Linked DNA regions of Homo sapiens: region 2 is linked to region 1. The links come from fine-mapping of genetic effects on gene expression. A gene starts in region 1. The other region holds a variant in brackets. All regions are shown on one strand. Distances are from middle to middle. Region 1 holds the start of GFPT1 (glutamine--fructose-6-phosphate transaminase 1). Region 2 overlaps GFPT1 (glutamine--fructose-6-phosphate transaminase 1).

What was found. PIP is the estimated chance that this variant, and not a neighbour inherited with it, causes the effect. A credible set is the group of variants that fine-mapping cannot tell apart.
Region 2: its variant is the best candidate, but not a certain one, in a credible set for the expression of GFPT1 in whole blood (INTERVAL, PIP 0.73).

The regions. Positions count from the first base shown.
Region 1 is chr2:69,384,635-69,389,027 of GRCh38, forward strand. GFPT1 (glutamine--fructose-6-phosphate transaminase 1) reads right to left here and starts at 2,593. Exons shown (of 20, transcript NM_001244710.2): 1 at 2,431-2,593. The coding sequence starts at 2,437. RefSeq lists silencers at 2,173-2,842, 2,903-3,012 and an enhancer at 2,385-2,944.
Region 2 is chr2:69,364,150-69,368,542 of GRCh38, forward strand. The region is part of intron 3 of GFPT1 (glutamine--fructose-6-phosphate transaminase 1); the gene reads right to left. Among named protein-coding and RNA genes, the nearest start is that of GFPT1, 21 kb to the right of the region's middle. The variant C/T (reference allele first, on the strand shown) is at 2,033.

The DNA.
Region 1 (4,393 bases):
AGTGAGCCAAGATCATGCCGCTGCACTCCAGCCTGGGCGACAGAGAGAGGCCCCGTCACAAAAAAAAAAAAAAAAAAAGAAAAAAGAAAGAAAGAAAAGAAAGAAGAGAAAGAAAGAAAGAGAGAGAAAGAAGAAAGAAAGAAAAAGAAAGAAAGAAAGAAAAGAAAAGAAAGAAGGAAAGAAAGAGAAAAACTTAACTAGATAGCAAGTAATCAGAAAGTAAGCTTCCAGATTTTCCCATCTAGTCTAATTTTCACTCCATTTCTCTGCTCAGGAATTTTAGTTCAATGACTAAGATGTGGGAGGAAAATAATGACACTCATCTTCTTATCTTTCAGAATTTACATTAGAGAGAAAATAAATTCTGAACCCTATCCCTAGAATCAGGCAAAACCGTGGTATGACTTAAAAGCAGGACCTCAGAAATGCCTCAAATATTCACTTTTTATTTCTTCAATACCTGTTTCCTCAGCCGTAAAACTCTATGGAATGGAGACACAAACTATGTGAAAACTCCCAACATTTAGTCTCCACCCTAAAGGTATCTCCCTTATCTGAACCTGATTTCCATATCTGATTTATTTATTTATATTTATTTATCATTTTTGAGATGGAGTTTTGCTCTTTTTTACCCAGGCTGGATTACAATGGCGCGATCCCGGCTCACTGCAACCTCCACCTCCTGGGTTCAAGCAATTCTCCTGCCTCAGCCTCCCGAGTAGCTGGGATTACAGGCGCGTACCACCACGCCCAGCTAATTTTGTATTTTTAGTAGACATGGAGTTTCACCACGTTGGCCAGGCTAGTCTTGAACTCCTGAGCTCAGGTGATCCACCTGCCTCGGCCTCCCAAAGTGCTGAGATTATAGGCGGGAGCCACCACGCCCAGCGCTGATTTATTTATTTATTTATTTTTTTTTCAGTAAGTACTTTGACTACGTTTTTTTCTTGGAACATGATGAAATGACCTGCAACCAGAATGTTGAGTACTTGATGAGGCACACCCCTCATCATTCAGGAACAGTTAACTACCAAATGAAGCACACTGGAGATTGACCAGTTTGCAAATTCACTACTTCACAGCTCCAAACTAAATGCAAAACCATTCTACTAAGTAGACACTGCAAAAGTCTGATTCTGAAGTCAGCTCTACTCTAATAATTTCAGTAAGCTATTTATAGGTGTTTCTGTTTTTATGTGGGTTTTTTTTTAATCTACTCTAAATTTAAACCTGCTCCTCATTTTCAGAAGCTGAAATGAGCATAAAGTTAAATACAGGAAATATATACACTAACGAGTACAATCCACCTCCTGTTCAGTTCCTTCGTGTAAAAGGCTGCAAATAAGAAGTCTCCCAGAGAGTTTTCAATTCTCTTACAATGGTACTTCCCTTTAAAAAAAAAAAAAAAAAGTGTACTTTCTTCCAGGGATAAAGTCGGTTGTAAATTTCAATAAGAAAGGTAAGAATACAATTATTTTTACTGGCAATAGCCAAATTAACACCAATTTTAGAAGATATCAGTCATGTCAGACACGATTCTCAAAGTCTCTTTCACTAACACTTAGGTCATAATAAACGACTCTCAAAACATGGAATAAAAGGGCCTAACCTTAATTTTTTAAGGCTCTAGGAAAGATATTTGCTCAACTTTCCATAGCTAGTATTTTTAATGGATGCACATGCAAGGGATAAATGATATTTTTCATAGTTGGTATTCTAAAGGGGTATACATCCAAGGTATAACTGATATTTTTCAGAGCTGGCATTTTTAATGGGTGCACACGCAAATGATAAATTATGTATAACCTATCGCCACAGACATTTGAAGGCCTCTTCCACCAGAGGATCAGGTCTAAGCCCATGAACCAAGTTATTGATTAGCAATGGTTTCTGTTGAGACAAGGGATGGCAGGAAGTATCACGTTTAATGGCACTACCGTGGCTCTAGCTAGGGTCTGTTTTCTATTGGGCCTCCCCAGAAACAAGTAAAATATTTTTTTAAAGATTTTTAGAAAAATGCAAGGTAAGTTCAAGAGACCTCGCCCGAGGTTCCACAGGTTTCCTCACTCACCTGGTGGGCCCTTTTGAAGGCAACCCCCTCCACACCTCAATTCCCTCAGCTCTCTCCTCCTTTTTCAATAAAGGCGTTTCTCTCCCCTTTCGGTTCCTTCTCCGCGCCAAGGCGCCCGCTAGCCCCCGGCAAAGGGGGCCCGCCTTCCTCTCAGGTGCCTTTCTCCCGGCCGCCACCCCCTCTCCCGCCCGTGGATGCCGGCCCCCGCCCCCGCAGCCACCACTGGGCGCCCCTTGCCCATCACCCAGACTTCGCACCCTCCACACTCCCGCTTCCGCCCGTCGCCTTGGGCCTTAGCGGCACCCGCACCGCACCCCAGCGCCACCCGGCAACACGCCCCCCGCTCCCGGCCCCCTTACCACACATGATGCCGGAGACACGGCCCGCGAGGCCAGGGGCGAGTGGCTGGCGGGATCGGGGGTGCACACACGAGCTTCGGTGGGCAATCTGCGGGCTCGGGGGCCGGGGTGGCGCCGACACGACTCCCTCGGGGATGCGACGGCCAAGGCAACGACAGCCTTCTCCGCCTCCCGGGCTCCGCCAGCAACCGCCGCCGGGCCCCGCCCCTCGGCGCGCAGCGCGCCGCCGCCCGTAGGCTCCATTGAACCGCTCACGCGCCGCTCACGCGCAAGTCCCGCCTCCCAGCGCTGCCCCGCCCCCCGAGCCCACGCAGGCGCTGGACTGCTGGCGGCGGCGACGTGGCAGTGGCTCGTGGCCGCGTCCGCCTGGAGTTCCTGGAGACGCCCGCCCCGGGGCGAGCCGCGGGAGGGACCGAGCCGAGAGGGAGGGAGAAACTCAGCACCTGGCAGGGAATGACGGAAAGAGAAGGATGGAATTGTTAGCAAAGCAATAGCCCGGGTGCGTGCCCCGTGCAGCCCCAGGCCCCAGGCGCCAGCACTGCACGAAGCGAGGAAAGAGGAGGAAAAAAGCAGGAAGTATGAAAAGGGAATCCTGGGGAACATAAGGCTGAAAAAAATTGCAAAGAATTAGGTTGAGGTGGGAGGAGAGAGATAACAAAATTCTTGACTGTAAAGCCCCAAAGGTCAGCCTCTCTGGTAATAAGCAATTCAATTCCTTGTGTAATATGCTTGGCCCCTAAAAGCCCTCCGCATCCGTTGCCTCCATAACCCTCAGTTTATTGTGGAGGGGTAGAGGAGGAATGTAAGGCTCAACTATCCGACTATGAGCCTGGACGTAAGAAACTGCTGGCCCACCTCCTCCCATGACCCACCTGAGACGGCTAGGAATTCCCTAGCTTTAACAGCCGCGCGTTTGACTTACGAACGATTCATTCTATGAATTAATGCGCCATGTCTGACAAGAGAGACTTGATTAGAGAGGGATGATGTTTCTGAGAATTTATTACCTGGGCATTTGCTTTAAACAGCCTTAAATGGTATCTTTAGTCAAATGTGGAGTAATCAGAACTCTATAATGGCTCTAGAGTAGAGTAGTATCAAAAACGTACATGGCACACAGAATTCCTGGAGTGCTGACTGCTGTTCATGTGTCTGGTCTTAGCCTGCTGACTGCTGTTCATGTGTCTGGTCTTAGCCGTCCTTCCAGCCCTATACACTCCCAACAGGCTCAACAGGTAGTTCCTCAACTGGGCCAAGATTCTCAAATCTTTTGCACACTTTGGTTACTCTGCATAGAATCCCCACCACGTCTCTGTTTAGATGCTACCTCTTCAGGAAAGCCTTTTTTATCCCCCCTAGACAGACTTGGAGACATGCATTAACCTCTTACTCTTTGAGCTACTCACTGTAAAGAAATATTCTTTGATATTTTATGATTTTCTGTATTTTCCCACTGGGCTGTAAGTTTCTTGAAGCTAGAACTAGATTTTACATACCCAACACTTTTAGACCACAGCACAAAGTAAAAGATCAAATTTATTTTGGAATGAGTGAAAAAAAGTCCTATTTTCTTAGCGGAATTAACCTTCTATGGCTGGTTATATGATTAAGTGAGCATAAGGCTTTCAGTTCTTCTTACGGGGAAAAGTGCCTTTTTTCACTTGCCTCAGAGAAGCTGAAAAATGTCACATTTAACTAAGCAGAGTATTTCTCACCTAAAAGCCCTTTTGATATTTCAATCCCTTAAACAGGTCCCTGGATCACCCAGAGCAAAGTTTAAAAAAAAAAAAAACAGTGAGCTTTTTGGTAATAATACATTTCTTAATTCAAGAAACAAAAGACTGTGGATATACATCTAGCCTCAGAACCCTCATCTAAGGCTCTGGTTAGAACTCCGTTGTATTACCTAAAAGCCAAGGTATGGTTCCAATGCTTAAGCAACATCTTTGTGCACTGGCAGCAA
Region 2 (4,393 bases), 20 kb before region 1:
CGTCTGTATCAAGACATCTCATGTACCCAGTAAGTTTACACACCTACTATATACCCACAAAAATTAAAAATAAAGATAAATAAAGATTTAGGAGTTTATGCAACTGAAATATTGAAGGCAAATGGTTTCAATAACAACCAAAAAACTAATACAGAGTTAAAGCAAACATGACAAAATTTTAATAACAGATAAAGTTAGGTGAAGTATATATAGGTAATAATGTACTATTCTTTCAAGTTTCCTGGAGATACAAATACTCAAGAGTTAAGGACAAAAACAATTAATGTAATCTTTTAAATCTATATTTAATTCTTGCCTTAAAAAGTCATTATCAATTTAATTAAACATGTAAAAATAAATTCATTTTCCCAATGACACACAACCTTATGACTGCAATTTCTTTGGTCTCTGGTGAGTGTACACACGTCTCACAATAGAAACTGCAACTATGGAGTGCCTCCAAAATCAAATAGGTATTTAAGAACCGAGCAATGCTATGAAAGTATGGGGCTACTGGGAAATCGGCATAGGCCAATGTTCCTTTATCTTGAAAAGTAGCTGATTTGTCCAGATGTGGTGGCTCATGCCTGTAATCCCAGCACTTCGGGAGGCAGAGGCGGGTGGGACACAAGGTCAGGAGTCCAAGACCAGCCTTACCAACATGGTGAAACCCTGTCTCTACTAAAACTACAAAAATTAGCCGGGTGTGGTGGTGCGCGCCTGTAATCCCAGCTACTCGGGAGGTTGAGGCAGGAGAATCGCTTGAACCCAGGAGGTAGAGGTTACAGTGAGCTGAGATCACATCACTGCACTCCAGCCTGGGTGACAGAGCGAGACTCCCTCTCAAAAAAAAAAAAAAAAAAAAAAAAAAGAAGTAGCTGATTCTTATTTTTCATATAAGCTATCTTTTCTTGGGGTTTCTTAAAAAAATGGACAGCTCCAGTTATTAACTAGTAATGCTCTTAATTTCCTAAATATAAAATTAATTTGGCTAAGAACCCAGATAACAAAGTTTATCAGAGTTAGGTCTAAATTAAGAGCAAACTGGCCGAGCACCACGGCTCATGCCTGTAATCCCAGCACTTTGGGAGGCTGAGGCAGGTGGATCACCAGAGGTCAGGAGTTTAAGACCAGCCTGGCCAACATGGTGAAACCCTGTCTCTACTGAAAAAATTAGCTGGGCGTGGTAGCACACGCCTGTAATCCCAGCTACTCAGGAGGCTGAGGTAGGAGAATCAATTGAACCCAGGAAGGGGAAGCTGCAGTGAGCTGAGATCATGCCACTGCCCTCCAGCCTGGGCGAAAGAGCAAGACTCCGTCTCAAAAATAAGTAAATAAATAAATAAATAAAACCACAATGGTATATTCTATTGTACTATAACATTTATATGTTGTCAACCTAGCTTCCACCAGAATTTGAGTTCTACAAAAACAGCAGCCTACCTTATTATTTTTGAATCCTAAGCACTAAAAGGTATACATGGCAGATACCTTTTTGTTGGATGGCTCAATCTATCAATGAATAAACTCAGGCATCTATTCTTTCCTGGCTTAACTGTGTTCTAAGTAATTAAGGCAACCTGATAAATGACCTCAAGAAAAATACCATTTACCATTATTCAACAGGCCAATGCAAGAAATGAAAACATCTTTGACTACTTTTTTTATTTTTTTTTTGAAACGGAGTTTTGCTCTTGTGCCCAAGCTGGAGTAAGTACAATGGCGCAATCTTGGCTCACTGCAACCTCTCCCTCCCGGGTTCAAGCGATTCTCCTATCTCAGCCTCCTGAGTAGCTGGGATTACAGGCACGCACCACCACGCCTGGCTAATTTTTTGTATTTTTAGTACAGACAGGGTTTCACCATGTTGGCCAGGCTGGTCTCGAACTCCTGACCTCAGGTGATCCGCCCACCTCAACCTCCCAAAGTGCTGGGATTACAGGCGTGAGCCACCACGCCTGGCCTCTTTGACAACTTTTTTAAGCTAACTATAATTAAAGCAGTATCTCCTTGCACATGCTGGCAGGCAATA[C/T]TGGAGAAAGTCACAAGATTCTATATATTGAATCCATTTCAAATTCATGATAATTACCACACCTTTATTTCACTGTTGCTGTAGGAACATTACCGAATGTCTAGTAAGAAAAAATTATTGCTATGACAATAAGCACATTTCTCATAATAAATATTTCCTGTCATATAAATTAATCATGACTTTGAATCCTTGACGCTTCCTTATTGTCTGTTACCCATTTTAAAGCCCTTTGCTGAATCTTAAGTCTAGATTAACCCCCACACTCGGTTTCTCTTCTCCCATCTACTGCCAAGCAATACTGAAGAAAGTCAGAAAATTCTGTAAATTAAGACCCTTTCAAATTCACATATCTATTTCACTGTTGCTACCTAAGAAACATGTATCCAAGTTCCTTATTCATTAAACTGATAGCTCAATCCAGTTCCCTGACAGTTCATCATATCTTTTCTATTCTCCATAAAGCTCAATCCTACCTGCAATCCCTCAATTTCCACTTTACTCAGCTTTTGTCCTCTCACCTGGTAATTATCTGCTTTAAGTTTGTCTTTCATCTTTGATTCCTAAAGTACACTTTTTCCTTTAAAGGCTAACTCCTTGCCTGTGCCTTGATCTTCTTGGGCCGTAGTGCTTCAATAATTTCCTCATTTGCATCTTCTATCTTACCCTACCTCTACTCCCATGGCTCCTTGCCCTCTGCCTGCCTTTTCTCAGATGTCATCTTCCCTTTTCAAAAAAAATACTTCAAACATATTTAAATTTGCTGGGAATAATGAACACCCAACTACCCATACTCAGAGTTAACAAAACATCTAGTCATCTGTGCTTTACATATTTTTTAAGATCTAAAATGTAAAAAATCAGTGTGGTATATGGAAACTTGAAATAAATAAATGTAAAAAATGCAGTTGATAACCTCCTTTATATCCCCATCCCATTCACTTACTCCTCAGAAGATTTTCAAGTTGACACAGTCTTACTATTCATGCCTTTTAAACTATGATTATGTTAACATGAGACCATAAATGATAGTACCGTTTTGTGTTTTTAAATGTCCTATACTTTACATACCAGGAATTATCCATGTTCCCATATGCAGAACCAGATTCAGTACACTTCTTTCAAAAGCTACATATGCTCATTCACTATCATATACAACTTATTTTTTGTTGTTGTTGTTGTTGTTGTTGTTGTTTTGTGGAGACGGAGTCTCACTCTGTCACCCAGGCTGGAGTGCAGTGGCACGATCTCAGCTCACTGCAACCTCCGCCTCCTGGATTCAAGTGATTCTCCTGCCTCAGCCTCCCGAATAGCTGGAACTACAGGTGCACGCCGCCACACCCGGCTAATTTTTTGTATTTTAGTAGAGATGGGGTTTCACCATGTTGCCCAGGCTGGTCTCAAACACCAGAGCTCAGGCAATCCGCCCACCTCGGCCTCCCAAAGTGCCAGGATTACAAGCGTGAGCCACCACGCCCGGCACACACAACTTATTATATCATCCCATTCCCTTACTTATAGACATTTAGGCTGTTTCTAAATTTTGCAACAGTGAATCTTGTTGTCATGTCACCTTGTTCACTGTGTTTCCTTCAAGTATATATCCAAGAGTGGAAGTGCTTAGTCTCAGGTTATAGGCATTTCCCATGTAGATATGGCCAGATTGCTCTTTAAAGTGATTTACCAGTTACAAATTCACCAGCAATATCTACAAGTTTCCATTTGTAGATAATAAATTCAATCAATACTTATTTTGCATGTATTGCAGGGTAAGATTAGCTAGGGGTTGGCCAGGTGCAGTGGTTCAAGCCTGTAATTCTAGCACTTTGGGAGGTCAAAGAGGGTGGATCGCCTGAGGTCAGGAGTTCAAGACCAGCCTGGCCAACATGGCAAAACCCCGTCTCTACTAAAAATACAAAAATTAGCAAGGTGTGGTGGCTCACGCCTGCAATCCCAGCACTTGGGAGGCCAAGGCGGGCAGATCACGAGGTCAGGAGATCGAGACTATCCTGGCTAACATGGTGAAACCCCATCTCTACTAAAAATACGAAATAATTAGCCAGGCGTTGTGGCGGGCGCCTGTGGTCCCAGCTACTCAGGAGGCTGAGGCAGGAGAATGGCGTGAACCAGGAAGCAGAGGTTGCAGTGAACCGAGATTGTGTCACTACACTCCAGCCTGTGCAACAGACCAAGAGTCCATCTTAAAAAAAAATTAGCTGTGAGTAAAGTAGACACTCAGATAACTACACTTCAAAAACAAACCAGTTGGCCAGGCTCAGTGGCTAATGCCTGTAATCCCACTACTTTGAGAGGCCGAGGCAGGCGAATCACTTGAGGTCAGGAGTTCAAGACCAGCCTGGCCAA